2 linked regions of the Homo sapiens genome follow. The protein of the gene in region 2 interacts with the protein of the main gene of each other region in a biochemical or structural test. Each region holds a gene or a part of one and is shown on either strand. Other genes may lie near its edges.

Region 1 (3,814 bases), on a different chromosome or scaffold from region 2:
ACCTGCACTGTGTTCTGGGAGGGGCCTTCGGGGCATACCTGGCCGGGAAGTCGGTCATGAACAGTTCAGGGACCAGCTCCTGCAGCGGCACGGGGAGGTCCGGGTGTCTGGGGCAGGAGATGAAGTCCCGCTCGATGGCCGTCAGGACACAGTCTTCCATGTCGAAGTACTGCACATCCTCTGATTTCTCACTGGGGTCCGTGTGCTGGGCCCAGGCTGTCTCGCAGACCGGGCAGGGCACGTACTGCTCCATGAGTGGCGTCCCGTCGCTCTCTGTGGCTGTCAGGGCTAAATAAGGACAGAGCAGGAGACAGCTTCACAAGAAGGTGGTGCAGGAGGGCCCCCCGAGCAGCACTCTGCACCCCAGGCCCTGAGGCCTTCGCAGCAGGGGAGCTGCCTGTCCTGGCCTGTACCCAAGAGACAGGCTGAAACCCACTGCCACATTCGGGTGCCTTTTTGGAGAGCGCAATTGTTTGTCCTGAAAGATGTGTCCAGGGAGGGTTCAGGATGCTTCCGAGAACTGTCCAGTGGTCGGGACACTGAGCAGGCTGGCTGGGGGGCCTGAGAGGAGTGGGGGGATCCCTCCTGCATGACTGGGCCCTAACAGGTCATCGCAGACTAGGTGTGAGCTATCCTCCAACCATCACGGCAGTGGGGAAGGCACCCTTCTTACAATTAGAAACATCAGGTTTACAATGTCCATGAAGGGCAATGCAGGGGCAGAAATGAGTGCAAATTATCATAGACGAAACTCAGTCACCGGACACGGGATTCCCCCACGCCTCTGAGAGGAGGTGCAGAGAAACACCCTCCAAGATGCCCTGTGGAGGTGCCCTCAGGGCCGGCCAACTGCCTGCTTCATGCAAGGTAGGAGGTGGATGCCTAGAACTTTCCAGGCACATCTGATATCTGCAGGTCCATGTGTAAGGCATCCCGTTGGGAGGGGCCCCTGGCTGGGGATGCTGGCTCCAGGCGATCTGTCTCAGGTGCTCACCAGAGCCCTTTCCATCTCAGGTGACTGTCTAAGGGACCCACCTGTCAAACTGCCCAGCACCTGCTGTGTGGGGAACACTGGCTGGTGGGGAGCTGCAAAGTGCCCAGAAGGGTTCACATGGGCCTAAGGGCCCCCTTAGACAGCCAAGTGCCTCCCAAATCACCATGACACGCACACCCAGCTGACTTCTCCGAGGGCTCCTTTCTAAGCCTTTTTTCCTTGTAGGTCACCCTTCCTGCCAACAGTGTGAAGGACCCCAACCCTGACAGAGACCAGACCCTGGGATCTGGAATGTGTATCCTGAGTGCATTCTGCCACTGCCTCTTAGCCACCTTCCCTGATGCTGTCTGGGATGCAGGCATTGCATGCAGGTGAGGCCGGCCCAGGAGGCCGGGGGACCAGCCGAGGCTTGCAGGGGTGGCACTGGAATTCCAAACCCGCTCTCCCACAGCTGCTTGGCCTCCAGCGTTCAGGGGCTGAGGCTCTCGGGCAGCCTGTCCCACAGCTGCTTGGCCTCCAGCGTTCAGGGCTGAAGCTCTCAGGGCAGCCCCTCCCACAGCTGCTTGCCCCATTAAACCCCAGATGGCCTCCCCCTGGCAGGCTGCTCTGGGAGTCGTCTCCACCCCAGGAGCAAAACAAACAGGAGGCCTCAGGAACTTCACTCAAAGAGTACTTTTTTTGGGTGAACTATCAATGAAGAAACAGATCCAAAGGGTCTGAGAAGGGCGGTGTTAGTGGTTTGATCACCGCCGGGATGGGTGGGGTGGCAGGGGAGGAGAGCAAGGCCCCTTGGCTGCCACGGCTCCCCTCCATCCCTGCCCCTGCGCAGGGGATAAATTTCCATCTGCCGGCTCCCCTGCAATTTCAGCCACACAGTCCTCACTATGAAAACAAGACACGTGTGAGCTCACACTGAGCATCTCCGTGGACCACTCGTGGTACCAGTGTCATCTTTCTTGCCACGCCTGTGGGCAGCTGGCAGGCCGCTTCCCTGCACATTCCCAGTGGTGTCCGAGCCCAGTCCTCCCCGTGGGACTCCCCCCAGTGACAGAGCTGGACTTCTCGGGGGCCAGGACTCCCACCAAAGTGCTGTTAAGACCCCCTAGTTTTCTTGGGCTGAATCCCAGTGGGATTTTTGTCCACCCCGAAAGCAGCAGCCCCACCCTGATTCATAAGAAATATTAGCATGAATGAGGGCTTGCTTCTAGCATCTCCTCTTACCGGGAAACCACTGATCAATCAAGGAATTGACGTGGTCCGTGATGAAAGCCATGGCTGAGAAGTCCCTCACTTCTGATTGGCAAACAATTTTCATTCCTCCGCTTTTCTTCTTTTTCCAGTTCACGTCGGAAGATTCCACACTGCAATCCAGAGACCAAAAGGAGCCCATTGCGATCTGGCTCTGGGGGACCCTGGGATGATATCCCTACCCCCAGGGACAGGAACCAACCCCCGGGGACCTGGAGAGACTCTGTGCCCTGCAGGACCGATGGGGGACTCCTCCCTGTATGTACGTGTGCGTGGCCCTGCCTTGTTCTTGCCCCGGACCTGGCCTGGTGAAGGAGGCACGAGGAAGATTGCAGTCAGGGACGCTCAGCCTGGGAGCTGACCCTCAGGTGAGGCCCTAAGGAAGTTCCCAGACCTCCCTGAACCTCAGTATGCTCATCTGTCCAGCAGCAACCCTGGGCCTTAAGTGAGAACATCTATGCGGAAGAGGCAGGTGCCAATCAAGCCCTCTGTAAAGTTACCTCCCCTTTTCCCTTCTTCTCCTCTCACAGAGCTGAAGAATATTTTGCAAAGTTCATTGTAAACATTAAAATAATCTTGGGTGTTTATCATTCGTTAAACCTGTTGGGCTGACTTTAGGTCTACCGCTCTCAAAAAACCAAGAATAAATGGCACAGGGAGCTGAGTTCCGTGTCTGGTTATGGGCAGTGGAGATGGGGGCTGAGGAGTCTCAGCATCCCCTGTCCCCAGCCTGGCTTCTCACAGAACAAGGGGACGGGCAGGATGGCTGCAAGGTCACCATGGTGACCTGAATAACCATGGGAAGTGCCTGAGGCTCTCCTGAGCTCAATGGCCGCCACGTCCCTCAAGTCCTCAGCTGTGGCCGCCACATCTGCCTTTGCCTTTCCCGTCCTGCAAGGGGGGCTCAGCAGGGGTGAGGAGACCGGAGCCTCTGGGACACTCGTGGGAGGGCCTCACATTTCTAGCAAGCTGCCATGACGAGCCGCTCTCACGAGCAAAATTCTGGACACCAAGAGGATGAGGCATCCTGCTGACGTGGCCCCGCGGTGGCTGCTGTGGCACCTGCTGACCTGGCAGGTGGGCTTCCAGGTGTTCCTACCTGAGGTAGCCCCCATCAAAAGTGACCAGGAGCCCTTCCTGCCAATAGATGGTCTGATTTCTTTTCACTCTGAATGTGCTACAGCGATTTCTCTGGTTTCCTGTAAAACTGTAAATGGTGACTTTCCTGTTCCTGCTTTTAGTATTCTTCTTGTTTTCAAAAAGCTGAAAGACAGAGAAAAGACCCTGCTTAAGTATTCTGGGCTCCTCGCTGGCCCTGGGCAGAGCTCTGCAGAGGCCGGGCTGGGCCCCATCTTGATAAATGTCCCCCATCTTTCCCACCCTCTCCTCCCACGCTGCTCATCCCTGCTGCCAAATTGAACGTTACATTAGCTGACGGGGTCTCCAGGGAATTCCGGAAACACAGTTTTTCCAAAGAATTGAAAAATAGGCTTTCCTTTAAAATTTTTTTCCCTTTCTGACTTTACAAGCAAAAATTCATATTAGAAAATGTAGAAAATACAGAAAAATGTA
Region 2 (3,814 bases):
AAGTAAAGAGCAAAGAGAATAGATATTTTCAAAATACTTAGACGTTGAGGGAAAGAGAAAGAAAAGTATGTCCAAAACTCCCACTTGGTATTGTGGGCATCTGAAAAACTGGAATACATATTCAGCAATTACTCTATAAATGATGTTTCACTTGTTAAACTAGAAATTCAATTATCTTGGTATACATTTTCAGAGCTTGAAGCTTGTCATATTTTCAGTTCTACAGAAATTTCCTACATGGATATGCAGTAATATATTTCATTAATAGAAAACGAATAATGATTATAAGTATACACTCCACTGAAATAAGAGTTTATTCAATTTCTGGCTTGAAATAGGTTGAAATGTCTTAAAGTTTTTATATTATATAGATTGTTACCCACATATTTTGAACATACATACAGCATAGGATAGTCTAGCTATATACCCATTTCCTCAAAATTAGAACCAAAAATAACTACTAAAGTAGGAAATGTATTGTTACTGGGGAGTAGCAAGAAATACTCCAAATACTTCAAATGTGAAAAAGAGAAAAACGGAACTCTTTCGGGGGGAATGGAGTGTCCATTACTTTTTACCTTCTCCAGTTCTAGAATCTGTTGCTTCTGCTCTTCATCCAGACTTTGGGTTTTGCTTCGCAAAAAAGCTCTTTCCTCTTCAAGTTGAGATAATCTCTCATTGACTCTCGATTTTTCTGATTCTAAATCTTTAATTGTAACTTCCTGGGTCATTTGAGTTGCTTGAAGCATTCCAATATGACCTATCCCCCAAAAAGAAAATCCCTTCAATTTAAAAATCAGTTGTACTATGAGATAAACAGTTTACATTTAATAACACAACTGTACTTTATACTTAAGTAAAATAAATGGTCTACATGTACAAATTTTCCTTTTGTTTCTTCACTACATAAAATGGAAATATTTACATGAAAATACTTCTTAGCGCACTAGAATAATTTAAATTAAAACGTCATTTTCACATGATTAATGTTGCTTCCTGCACCTCGTACCGTTTTACTGGTTTTTTTTGTTTTTGTTTTTGTTTTTTTAAGATTGCAAGCTAAACAGGTTGAAGTAGGCGCAACTCCTCAGTAGGCTTCATAAGAAAGTCTCCTGGGAATAAAAGAAGGACGGAGAGGATGCACTGACTGACACTGTGGCGCCAAAATGAGTGATTCGTTCTTTTCTAATTTATTTTCAAATTCTAACATAAAAAGGAAGAAGTTTGTATGTAGGAAACAAAGATGGCAGATAGCAGTTTGGTTGAAATTGAATTTGTTTCAGGCAAGAGGCCAGATAAAGACCTAAAGTGGAGCTTGTAGTTCCAGCTACTTGGGAGGTTGAGATGGGAGGATTGTTTGAGCCCAGGAGTTCAAGGTTGCAGTGAGCTATGACTGCACCTGTAACAGCCACTGCACTATGTCCTGCAACATAGCGAGACCTCATCTCCAAATAAAAACAACCAACCAACCAACAACTAAGGTGATGTAAGACACAGATAAAGACAGCAAGGTTATGAAAGAATCTCTTAAATGACAGCAAAAAGCAGGGAAGGTGGAGAAAAATGAGGAGAGACAGAGAGATGAAAAGTGAGTGAAGAAAAAGGTCTCATAGAAAGGATAGTTTAAGGCAGAGGTTCTCAAAGTACCCAGGACCAGCATCACCAGCATCACCTGGGAACTCTGGTTAGAAATGTGACCCACCCCAGACCTAAAAGTGAATCAGAAACTCTGAGGGTGGGGCCCAGCATCTGTAGTTTCACAAACCCTTCAGGTCACTCCAATGTGCACTAAAGGCTATTAAAAACAACTATTTTAGAGGAAGGAAAATCTGAGATTCACTGATAAGCCAATCAAAATCAAATGAGATCCTCAAAGAACCAGCTCAAACAGCCTTCCTGGGCACACTAAACACTTAGACAAAATATAACTTCAGAACTGACACAAGTCACCCACTTCCTCCAGTAATGGTTGTGAAAAAGCATACCAGCCACTTGAGAAATAGGCAAGTCAGCTTTAGTATGTAAAAATGAACCTTAGTAACAAGCCCTAAGAAATGAACTGCTGTAATTTACAAACTTCAACTAATTTGAGCACTTTAAAATGTGTATTTTTTCAGTGAGACCTCATCTTTAAAAAAGTTAGCCCGTGGCATACCTAGAGTCCCAGCTACTGGGAAGGCTAAGGCAAGAGGATTACTTAAGCCCAGGAGTTTTAGGCTGCAGTGAGCTATGATCAGGCCACTGCACTCAAGCCTGAGCAACAGAACAAGATCCCATCTCTAAAAACTAAATAAATGCTGGCATGGTGGCTCACACCTGAAATCCCAGCACTTTGGGAGGCCAAGGTGGGAGAACTGCTAGAGCCCAGGAGTTTGAGGTCACCCTAGGCAACATGGCAAGACCCCGTCTTTACAAAAAATTAAAAAATTAGCCAGCCAAGGTGGTGCATGCCTGTGGTCCCAGCTACTCAGGAAGCTGAAGTGGGAGGATCACTTGAGCCCAGGAAGTCCAGGCTACAGTGAGTTGTGTTCATGCCACTGCACTCCAGTCTAGGTGACAGAACAAGACCTTGTCTCAAAAAATAAAATAAAATAAAATGTATATTTTTAAAGGACAACACCTCTTGAAAAGTGTGCTTCATTTTTCGTTCTTTCTTTTTTTTTTTTTTTTTTTTTTTTTGATACAGCCTTGCTCTGTTGCTCAGGCTGAAGTGCACTGGCGCAATCTCGGCTCACTGCAACCTCTGCCACCAGGTTCAAGTAATTCTCATGCCTCAGCCTCCTTAGTAGCTGGAATTACAAGTGTGTACCACCATGCCCAGCTAATTTTTGTTATTTTTAGTAGAGATGTGGTTTCACCTCGTTGGTCAGGCTGGTCTCAAACCTCTGGCCACAAGTGATCTGCCCACTTTGGCCTCCCAAAGTGCTGAGATTATAGGTGTAAGCCACCATGCCCAGCCCGTTTTTCTTTTAGTGACTACTTTATTGGTATTTTACCTGCTATTGGTATTTTTCCTCACAAAGGAAAACTCTCAAGTTTTCTATAAAAATATATTCCTAAAAATAAAAAATATTTGTGTATCTTATAAGTAATTAGTAACATATTGAGTCCTTTAACTTATTTACAGTCTAAATAGTTTTAAAATGTTAGAAGAAAAAATAAATGCTACCTTAAATTAACATTTAAGTGTTGGGGCCGAGCGTGGTGGCTCATGCCTGTAATCCCAGCACTTTGGGAGGCTGAGGCAGGGAGACTGCCTGAGCTCAGGAGTTCGAGACCAGCCTGGGCAACACGGTGAAACTCCATCTCTACTAAAAATACAAAAAAATTAGCCAAGCATGGTGGCGGGCACCTGTAGTCCCAGCTACTCAGGAAGCTGAGGCAGGAGAATTGCTTGAACCCAGGAGGCAGAGGTTGCAATGAGCCGAGATTGAGCCACTGCACTCCCGTCTGGGCGACAGAGCAAGACTCTGTCTCCAAAAAAATAAATAAATAAAGTGTTGATTTTAGCTAAGCATTACATCAAAAACTGTGGTCACACATACTAGCTTTGAGGACAAGATCTGAAGCTTGCTGTTGTAAACGTTCTCTGGCAGCTGCTAGCTCACTTTCCACTTCTTTGTGCTTGCTTAATAGGGCCATTTCTCCCTCCTTGGCATCATCAAGCTGTTTTTGAAGAACCTAAGAAAGATTAAATAGCCATTGTTAAAATGCAGGAATAATACTAAGCTAAATAATTCATTTAAATTATAAGGGTCAGCTTTCTCTTATTCAGAAGTCATACTAAACTATATACCAATTTTTAAATCTGTAA

What was found.
Region 1: the proteins of FAM184A (region 2) and LRRK1 form a complex in vitro, tested with the Homo sapiens proteins (one large-scale study listed by BioGRID).

Annotation. Positions count from the first base shown.
Region 1 is NC_000015.10:101,048,185-101,051,998, reverse strand, and holds part of LRRK1 (leucine-rich repeat serine/threonine-protein kinase 1), read right to left. Parts: intron 3,506-3,814; coding exon 3,342-3,505; intron 2,907-3,341; exon of another isoform or gene 2,356-2,906; coding exon 2,216-2,355; intron 1,366-2,215; exon of another isoform or gene 289-1,365; coding exon 39-288; exon of another isoform or gene 1-38.
Region 2 is NC_000006.12:119,019,400-119,023,213, forward strand, and holds part of FAM184A (protein FAM184A), read right to left. Parts: intron 3,682-3,814; coding exon 3,546-3,681; intron 761-3,545; coding exon 579-760; intron 1-578.